Regions from separate parts of the Homo sapiens genome. Here region 2 is linked to region 1. The links come from fine-mapping of genetic effects on gene expression. Tissue or cell type: whole blood. Region 1 holds a variant in brackets; the other region holds the start of a gene. All regions are shown on one strand. Distances are from middle to middle.

Evidence for each region. PIP is the estimated chance that this variant, and not a neighbour inherited with it, causes the effect. A credible set is the group of variants that fine-mapping cannot tell apart.
Region 2: it holds the start of SEMA4G, and the variant in region 1 is the best candidate, but not a certain one, in a credible set for the expression of SEMA4G in whole blood (TOPMed, PIP 0.53).

The regions. Positions count from the first base shown.
Region 1 is chr10:100,924,802-100,930,184 of GRCh38, reverse strand. It overlaps SLF2 (SMC5/6 complex localization factor 2), which reads right to left. Exons shown (of 20, transcript NM_018121.4): 5 at 5,213-5,383; 6 at 4,166-4,236; 7 at 746-868; 8 at 188-355. Among named protein-coding and RNA genes, the nearest start is that of SLF2, 15 kb to the right of the region's middle. The variant AC/C (reference allele first, on the strand shown) is at 3,103.
Region 2 is chr10:100,966,259-100,971,641 of GRCh38, reverse strand. It overlaps SEMA4G (semaphorin 4G), which reads right to left and starts at 2,138. Exons shown (of 15, transcript NM_017893.4): 1 at 2,051-2,138. RefSeq lists a silencer at 2,122-2,181.

The DNA of each region.
Region 1 (5,383 bases):
TCAAACAACTATCCTACACTGCTTCCTATAATTAAAGAAGAAAACATAAAGATCAATAGTAATAAGAGGATTAGGAAACTTAATAGGTCATAATAGAAATTAACCTTTTAGAAGATTACGTGAGTCAGAAGTGTTTTAGAGTAATTTTTTATACATATAAAAGTAAAATGTCTATTTTTCTACTTACTTAAGAATAAGTTTTTCTACAGCACTTTGTCCAATAAAACCAGAGTCTCTTAAATCCAAGGTATACTGATTGAAAATTTTTCCAGAATTGAGGAAATTAAATATTTCTTCACCTGGATGATGATCAGGAATAGCATCAATTGTAACTGAAAATTTCTTTAGAAATTCCCTGAAACATAAAAAAAGTCAATCAATACCAAATTGTTACACTACATATAGTTTTGTATTTAAAAGCTGGGTGCAAAGAAAACCATTTTTTAAGCCAATGTTAATCCCAAATTAGAAGACTAGCATGAGAAAAGTATGCTTTGCTTCTTCCACTTTTTGTAGTTGTTAGTCAAAAGCCACTAAATGTGTCTATGTGAAAAGAAACAATAACCAGGAGAAAAGATAAAAGATGAAACCTGGCCCTAACATTTGCCTTTCAAACCCATTACAGACAGAAACCTATCATAAATTATTCACTAACAGCCATCAATGGCCCATTTATTTTACAAAAACAAAACTAAAAAATGTAAAAACTTTAATAAGGTAAAATACATTATGAAAAATGCTATACTTGTGCTCTTCTAAGAGGCCATCCTCATCATCTGTACTGTCTTCTTCTCCAATTCTGATTGGGGATTTAATGCCTCGGCCTTGCCTTATGTCTTCTTGTAGTTGCTTCTGCAGTTCATCTAGCCTGAGAATTGGAAAGAATGTTATAACAGTTTACTCTAAAAATATTTTTAAAAAGTCTTTAGTTTATATCTAAAAGCAGCACAAAGAAAACCCTTATTAAGTACCCTGGTATATAACAAATTTTGTTATACTATCGGTCAAATTATGTCTCCCAAATACATCACGACGTACAATTTTCATGAAAACAGATATATTTCAGGTGCTAGGCTTTTACCCAGTTACCAGTGTGGCATTAGAATAGTGTTCCACTGCATAAAAGACTTGAGGATTTCCATAAAGCTAGAACTTCAAGAATGATCTGTCCAAACCACTCACAGAATGGGAAAGGAAAAATGGCAAAGAATAAACATCACTAATTTGATTATCCTCTCTACTCTTTAAAGTTCACTGGGTTCTAGATGCCCAACAACCTGATAAGTTAACTAGGCTTTCTAGCAGCAGTAGTTGTCACTGTCATCATCATCACAACACCTAACATTTACCGAGCACTTAATATGTGACAGGCACTGCACTAAGGGCTTTATATATTAACTCTTTTAACCCTTACAACAACTCCATGTAGTAGTTTATAACGCATTTTATAGATAAGAAAACCAACATTAGAAAAGCAAAGTAACTTGCAAGAGCTTGTAATGCAAGGATGTGGGATTCATAGCGAGAGAGTCTAGCTCTAGAGTCCTTGCTTATACTGCCTCTCCAAGATTAAGTTATTTTAAACAAGGTCCTTACCCCAGCCACAAACAGTGGATAAGTACAGCTGAGGAGTAAATAACTAGTAAATGTACTGTTCTATCATTATAGAAAAGGGTCAATCATTCAATTAAACTAGTACTACTGTCTTTCATTTGTGAAGTGCTCAATTTTAAAGGAGGAACTTCAGATTTCATATCACAGATCACAAGAATTCATGAAATATTTAAAGAATTTTAAATACAGACAAGTTCTCTAATTAAATTCAGAAAGGGGGAAGCTTTTGAACTACTAATCATCTGAAAAATTCCTAAAGTTAGCTACTTGGTTATCAAGTTTGAGATATGTAGCACATACCAACTTCCATGTAATCAAGTCAGCTGAGCTGTTAGTGAAGTTCTCCAGGCTAGGTTCAAGGACACTCCTTGAATTAACAAGGAATATATTTTTCCCCTCTTATTAGCAAAACCTGTCCATAATTAGTCACATAAATTTCATTAAGATCATTATGATCCTCAACTTTTCTCTCTCTCTCTCTCTCTCTCTCTGTCTCTCTCTCGTGTGTGTGTGTGTGTGTGTGTGGGGGGGGGGGGGGGTGTTCATCATAATTCTAAACTTTTTCCTCAAAAGAGTAACTTGATAGAAATATTTCAGAAAATTCTACCTGTGTGAACCGCCCCACCCACCAAACAAGCCAATTAAAAACAGGCAAAGAATCTGAAAAGACATTTCTCCATTTGTATAACAAATGGCCAATAAGCACATGAAAATATGTTAACATCATTAGTCATTAGGGAAGGCAAACCAAACAATAAGGAGATACCACTTTACTGTTAGGATGGCTATTATCAAAACAAACAAAAAACAAAGATAAAATAATGTGTTGGCAAAGATGTGGAGAAACTGGAACCCTTATTAATTGTTGGTGCAAATGTGCAATGGTGCAGCCATTGTGGAAAACAGTGTGGCGGTTCCTCAAAAAATTAAACGGAATTACCATATAATCCAGTAAGTCCACTTACGTGTATATGCCCAACAGAATCTAAAGGAGAGACTTGAAGAGATATTTGTATACCCATGTTCATAGCAGCATTATTCACAGTAGCCAAAAAGTGGAAGCAATCCAAAGGTCCACTGACAGATGACTAAAGAAAATGTGTTATATACATAATACAATGGAATAATCAGCTTTATAAAGAACGGAAATTCTGACACATGCTACTATATGAATGAACTCTGAAGACACTGCCCTGAATGAAATAAACAGTCGTAAAAGGACAAATATAATACCACTTACATGAGATAACTAAAACACAGTCAATTTCATAGAGACAAAGTAGAAGGGTAGTTGCTGAGGGTGGGAGGAAGAGGAAAATGGGGAGTTATTGTTTAAAGGGTATGGAGTTTCAGTTTGGAAAGATGAAAAAGTTCTGTAGCTAGATGGTGATAATGGTTGCACAACATATAAATTTACTTAATGCCACTGAACTGTACATGTAAAAATGGTTAAAATGGTAAATTTTATATGTATTTTCCATTAAAAAA[AC/C]ACAAAAAATTCTACCCATGCTTTCGATCTAGAATTTCAGCTATCAGATACTAGTTGTAATAAACAGAAAGGAATTTATATTATTAGTTAGTGCAGTATACTATAAAAACCTGGATCTTTTGATCCAGTCTATGAACAAGAGAACCCATCTTATTCCCTTTTTTTTTTTTTTGAGATGGAGTCTTGCTCTGTTGCCCAGGCTAGAGTGCAGTGGCGCAATCTCGGCTCACTGCCACCTCCGACTTCCGGGTTCACGCCATTCTCCTGCCTCAGCCTCCCCAGGAGCTGGGACTACAAGCGCCCGCCACGACACCCAGCTAATTTTTTTTTTTATTTTTTAGTAGAGATGGGGTTTCACCATGTTAGCCAGCATGGTCTCGATCTCCTGACCTCATGATCCACCTGCCTCGGCCTCCCAAAGTGCTGGGATTACAGGCGTGAGCCACTGCGCCTGGCCCCCCACTTTTTTTTTTTTTGAGACGGGGTCTTATTCTGTCACCCAGATTGGAGTGCAGTGGCTCAATCACAGCTCACTACAGCCTTGACCTCCTTGGGCTCAGGTGATCCTCCCAACCTCAGCCTGTTGAGTAGCTGGGACCATAGGTATGTGGCACCATGACTGGCTAATTTTTGTATTTTTTGTAGAGATGGGGTTTCACCATGTTGCCCAGGCTAGTCTCAAACTCCTGGGCTCAAGAGATTTGCCTGCTTTGGCCTCCTAAAGTACTGGATTACAGGCATGAGCCATCACACCTGGCCTCTTTTTTTCATTTGAGACTGGGTCTCACTCTGCCACCCAGGCTGCAGTGAAGTGGCGCCATCACGACTCACCGCAGCCTTGAACTCCTGGGCTCAAGTAATCTTGCCTGGGTCTCCCAAAGTGTTGTGATTACAGGCATGAGCCACTGCGTCCGGCCAACATATCTTATTCTAACACAGTTGACAACAGAGTCCAAAATGCACGCTAATTTCTCATGATTTTTTAAAAAAGGTAAATTAAAAGTAAGCCACACAAACAAGCAAAATGTTAAATTTAGCAAATTAATCTTTATGCTAACAAACCTTTGTGTGTCTTCCATTTCCTTCACTAGACGTTCTAAGGTATTTGTGTAAGTTCCAGGATGAACATGTCCCTAAAACAAGAACATTTAGAAATACTTTACCACATGTCTTAGTAGAAGAACTGGGATGTTTTAAGTAATTAAGGGTACGAAAGACTATTTTCTATTTCAATAATCTGGGCCAGGATAACACCTTTCTTAAAGGATAATTTTCACCATCATGCTTTAAATCTAGTATTTTGCACTGCAGACAATTTGATTTTACTACCTATTAGGAAAGGCAGTACTTATAAAACCCTGCTAACTTTGAGATGTGACTGCAAACACTCAAGGACTCTGTGGCTACCCTGTCTTTACTTTTAAATTCTATTTTAGTAGAATCAAACTACTAATTTTTAGGTGTTACCATGGAATATTAACACCTTCCCCACCAAATTTTACAGACATCTTAGAATTTAATTCAGCTTATTCCCAAGATAGAATGAAGCACTTTATAAATAAAATTGCACACCACAATCAACAACATTTCTACACTCTACCTTCATTTACAGATGTGGTCTCCAAAGCAGGGGGTGTGCAAGGTGATCCATTGGGGTGCAGGAAGAAAATAATAGAACTTCTATTTATATGGAACTTCTATAGAGACTCCAGTAGAACTTAGTCTATAGTAACTTCTACGTCACTTCTACAGGAAAATACTTATTTTTCTCTTCTTCTTCCTTTTAAATTCTGTTTTTGCATATGCTTTAGAAAGTACACAGTATTACAGTGGTACATATATATAATCTAAAGGTATACATATATGTTGGGGTACATGCTCAAAAATTGTTAAGTGTGTGTGATCAAAAGAGTTTGGAGACCACTGACTTACAGTAATAAAACTAAAGATATGGAAACTCATTTACCAAACAAGAATTATTCCATTTTCAGTACAAATATGAGTTATAATAAATACTAAATTTTAAAGTAAGTTCCGATAATCCACCCCTTTCACTAATTAATCATCTTTCCCTCTTCAAGTAAAGATAAACGTCACAGAACTACTTACTGTATAGTCTGATGACTGAGATCTAAGCCCCTTGGAAAGAGCAGGAGGCTTTCCTGTAGCTGCAGGAGTCTGATTGAAGTTCAAAGCCATTATTTCTTCCAGTGACTTTAATGTTTCCTCTTCCTCATCACTGTCTAGGTTGTAACCTAAACTTTCTTCATCACTATCAAA
Region 2 (5,383 bases), 41 kb before region 1:
AGACCTAATACATTCCATCTCATCAGCCACCCACAGGCAGGGCCAGAGGGTGCCACTGGTGCCTCCTCTCCCAGGTCAAATATTAACTATCTGGCCTTGGAAAGAGGGGAGGAATCAGGAACTGGCCAGAGGGATAACAGGAGCAATTATTCAAGAGGTAAAGGTCAGCACTGCAGGGGCAGAGCCCTGAGGGGTAGAGTCAAATATGAAAGGGAGAGAAGAGGATTCCCTGACCCTGAAAGGGCATAGGCTCCCTGTTTGGGATCTGGGACAGCAGGAAGCTTCAGGCAAGCCGGCCATGCCCCACCCCTCCCTGTGGAGGCACACCTGTTTACCTTTGGGACCTCCTATTTGCTCAGTGCAAAAGGCATGTGTGTGGGGAGCACTATGGCTAGGAGGAACATGCCCCAGGTTAGAGGAGCCACTCAGTGTGGTGCATGTCACACTTATAGTTTAAGAGTCACATGGGTGACTATTAGGAAGGTGATATACATGCACATGGGTGCACACACACACACACACACATGTTCACAAGGAGGACTGTGAACACGTGGATTCACAGGGGTCATTCACACATATACTCACAGGGAGTTTTGTGCACACATATGCTCATACAGAGGGCCACAGCCACAGGTAATCATACATATTCACATGTGACGTTGAATTTACATGCCCATCCATTCAGCAGGTCACACAGCCTCAGACATTGAGGAGAGATAAACCCACACATGTGGGTTTGTGTCAAGGACTGTGCACCTATTCAACAGGAGGGTCCTATACATACACATGTATGTGTAGGGACATGCACACAAACCCATTGATATAGTGGGCCAGGCAATCATGTTCACAGAAGGGTCAAGTACATGTGTGCTCACACGCAGTTCTTGAACACACAACTACATCCATGCAGAGACAAGCACACATGCATACAGGGGTCCAGTTTTTGCCATAGGCTTGGAGGCTGCCAGTGTCCACTGGGGTGAGATGCAGAGCAGAACCCTGCCTCTGTTCCTGAAAGTCCCAATTCTAAGGCCCAATTTCAAGTGTGTGTTTGTGTGTGGGGGTGGTGAGGGGGTTGTGTGTGTGTGTGTGTGTGGTGATGGGGGAGGCTTCTGACCTTGGATGGGCAGATGGGATGGGTGCATGAGTCAAGGCCGCTCTACAAGGGAGGGAATGGGAAAGTAACTCAGGCAGGAGGAGGCCCCTAGCTTCAGCAAAGATGGAATGGAACGCATAATTTAGTACTCCTCCACCCCTATGTATATTGCGGTTCTAAAGGTGGGAGACGGGCTGGAGCTCTCAGCCCCCACTTAACCTGTGGGAGGGGGCGGGGCTAAGTGGGCGGGGCGGAGCATATCACCCCTCCCTTCAGTGGCGAAGTACGGGTTTAAGGTCTCCAGTCCACGCCCCACACTCCACCCCAAGTTCCACAGTTCGGGTTCTTCCCCAGGGCCAGCCCCCTGAACTCTGATCACCTTTCCTCTATTAGATCTTGGGGTGGAGGGAACTGGGGAGGAGAGACCCTTCAAACAGGATCAATGGAGGATCAGCAGGCTCTCGACCTTCATCCCAGATGTCCACCTGCCTAGTGTAGGCGGTATTTCCCTCTGCCTAGTAGGATGGCGGTCTCTCCTGGCTTGAGAGAGCCCCTCCCCCGGGACCCCCTCCCTCCAACATCCTGGACAGTCCGCGGTCCTCTCCCTTCGTCAGGTCTAACCTCAGTCTCTACTGCTGCAGCTCGAGGACAAGCTCTCCTTCGATCCCGCCGGACGCCGGGAGACGTGACCCAGATCCTGGGGAACACTGTTCGCCACGCGGCCCCCTCCCCGCGCTGGTCCCCGACTCCGTGGTGGCCGGTTTGCACCCCGCGCAGCCCGAGGCCTGGCCCGCGCCCCTCTAGAGCCGTCATGCAGGACCGGGGGACTTGGTGGTGAGAAAGGCCTGGCCCAGCTTGGAGGGTAGAATGGACGTGGGGGAGGCCTTGCCCGACCCCCGGCCCGCAGCCCCAGGCTCACGCCAGGGCGCCGCCCGCACTCCTCGCCTTGCTCACCTTTGCGCTCGGATCCGGGGCCATAGAGACAGCGACGCGCGGCTCCGCGGCCCCACAGCACCAGCTGCGAGAGGAAGGGGCCGCGGCTGGAGGCGGGGCGGGGGGGGGGTGGTGGAGGCGGAGCCGGGGGTGGGGCGGGGTCCTGAAAGGCGGGGCCGACTGGGTGGGGTGAGGGGAAGGTCGCCACTCTCTTCTTTGCGCCCCCTACTCTAGCACAATAGAGGCGGTTTGAGGGCGAGGCTCACACACAGCCTTCGGCCATCGGGCGACCCCCCACCTCTAGGCGCTGCGGCCCTGAAATCGCCCCCTGGTGGTGGCCTCGCCACCCCGTGCACCCTCCACATGCTTATAGCCCGTCCTCTCCTCCGCTGTAACCCTAGGACCCCCCTGACTTGCCTACTGCTGGGGACGTGCAAACCTGTCCTGGCGTTGCGGGGTTGGGGGACCCTCTCGGAGGGCCTTCTGGCCTGTCCTCTAACCTGGACCTCACTCCCTGTGCTCCTGCCACCCGCTTCTGCTCTCGGCCTAGGGTGTGGAGGGAAGGCTACCCTAGGTGGCGACTGGACGTTAGGGAAGCTCTGAACACAAGGTAGGGGCTTGATTCCCAGCTTCAGGGGCTGTTCAGCTTGAGCTATGCGTGGGGGAGATGGGGTCAGGCCTGAAGGGGATAAAGTAACAGCCTGACCTGAAAGGCACACAGAAAATGCTTTTTCTGGATAAATAAGCCACAAGCGTTTGCACCTGTTCACTCACCAAATCTTAACCCTAACCTAGGCTCACCTCAGGGACTGGGTCATTCAAACACTTGCCTTCCCCTCCAGCTCATCTTGGGCACCATTCTTATCCAGAACTTAGAGTGCACCCTTCTAGGCAATCAAGTACCCTATCCTTCCCAGATTCAATCACCTTACCCAGCAGCAATCTAGGAAACCCCTCACAATCAACTCCCCAACTCCTTTAACTCAACTAGGATGGTCCTTCTGTGCAAACTTGGTTCCTGCCTCCTTTAATAGGTCACAGCCTATTAAAGTGAACTTAGCCCCTATAGTCCAAACAAAACCTGCATTCAGGCCCTGACCCAGCCTGGTCCTTCCTCCTCCATCCATGACAGTATTCATGTGGGCTCAAGAGATGGACCAAAATGATAAAGGCCACAGGAACATATGTGATTGACTCTTGCATGTGCCTAGGAGTCAGAACAGGATTCAAGTGGCACATTTAACTAAAGGAAACTTGGGAAAGGCTTCATCCTTCTTTCTGGATTCCCCAAAGCTCACAGTTTGGCACTGAATCATATACAATCTCGTAGTTTGGATGGCTGTGTGTGACTGCAGACTGCTAGACAGCAGGGCCCACATCACAGTTCCACCTCCCCCAACACTCTGCAAATAGGATGTGTGTGGCGGGGAGAGGGAAGGTAGCTGGGGAGAAACACAATAAAAAATGTACACACACTTTTACAAAGAATATCCTGCTTCATTTTTTATTTGTACCCTCATCCCATCCTGAGGAATTTATAGCCCCATTTTATGGATGGGGAAACAGGCTCTAAGACATTAAGTAACTTGCCTTGAAGTTCATTCTTGTGTTTATGGAGAGGACAATCAAGACTGGAAAAGTCTGAGAAGGAGGAAGCAGGGTAAGCCAGAAGGGGAAATACCATTGGCAAAGGTAGAAATGTTCAAGCTTATGCACAGGCTTGTGTTGGGGAACTAAGGAAGGGGCATGAAAGAGGGCAGTGAGTTTGATTTGATGAAATGGCTGGGGGGGGGGGGGGGGCGGGGAGGGGTTCCTAGTGGGAAATAAAAGGGAAAAGTCAGCTAGTAGTTTGAAAAAGACCACAGAAGAAAATCCTGAAAGAGATGATGGACTGAGTAAGGACGTCTGAGGTGGGAAGACCAGTCAAGGCAGGGCTAAGAAAGATAAATCTGCAGTCCTTATCAAAAAGTGGGTTGGTGGTAACAGTGGAGGCAGGGTAGGAAGACTGCTGGTCCTTCAGTAGCAGATAGGAGAGCAATTAAACTGTAGGGGCCCAGGGGGCTAAGAGGCACAGCTTCCCAAATGTTCACAGAACCTGCAGTGCTGACTTCAGATAGCTCTGGAGGTGGCGAGTAGGCCAGTGTGGTAGGCTCAGTATCACTCAACTTCACTTTATGAACCAAGCTTTGCTCCTCTGAGGTGCTGATGGCAAACTCAGACATTGTTAAATGAGCAAAATGTGTGATTTCAATGATCACTGGGCAGTTACTTCAGTACTTTTGATAGCAGACCACAATCCATTTCCTTCTGCTAGCCTCCCAGTAAAATCTCTAAACCTAATGAGAGTATCAGATGTAAAAGCAATTAATGGAGCTGCCCATAGGAAGCCCTTTTGATTGACAGTATGTCTCTCTGCAAATCCAGCTGGTAAAATAAGAACGGGGGAATACTGACAGACAGTGGAAAAGAAAACTGGAAATCAACTAAAGAAATTAACCCTAACCCAGCCATAAATCTGCATCCTGGGACACAGGCAGGTCATTCTTTGAACAGGCTGTCACTCATCCATAAGGTCACTACCCTGGCTGCTTCGCAGGGTGGCTGTGAGAGGATTCCATTTGGAAACCTTCTGGAGAACTTCACACACACAGAAAAGTATGAGTTTTGTTTTTGCTAGTCTATTTTCCCCAACTTTGCTGTAAGAAAGTGGCTGAGGGTAGTGCTGGCCGTCTTCAGCAGTGATTGTCAGCCACTTACACACCAGAGTTTAGCTCCACTTTGCACAGAACAGTTACTTACTGTAGCAGGGATCCTAGGTGAAGGGGGTGGGTATGAATTCCTGAAACTTGAGCAGGTTCCCTGAAGCAAGAGAACTCTGGCCTAGTCAAGTTGTCCTGCTTACTGTTCAATGTGGCAGCATTTCTGTTCCTGCTTTGCCATCTCCATCTCTGGTTTGCCCAGCACTTTCCCTTTAGGTGGTGTGGTCTTTATTTTGGCTATATATACAGCTGAGGTGCTTCTTCTGTAGGGGCTGTCACCAGTGCAACAATGCGGAAGTCTCACTATTCCACTGTGCCTCAGAAGCCTGTTTAGTTTTCCTCCCAGCCAGTCGTCTTGGAGTCAGACCCAAAGCTGGGCCTTCTGGTTTGCCCTCTCTTGACTCCAGCCTAGGGAATGGTTAGTAAGGGAAAGGGAGTGTCAGGACATTCCCACAAATGCTGGAAAACCACCACCCATCACCAATTTCTCAGCTTTAGCATGCTGGCTTTTAAAAAGTGAAAATTTTAATTAAAAAAAATCAGCAGAGATAGCTGGACAGAGAAGCTCCAGCTCCCGGTATCCAAAGAAATAGGG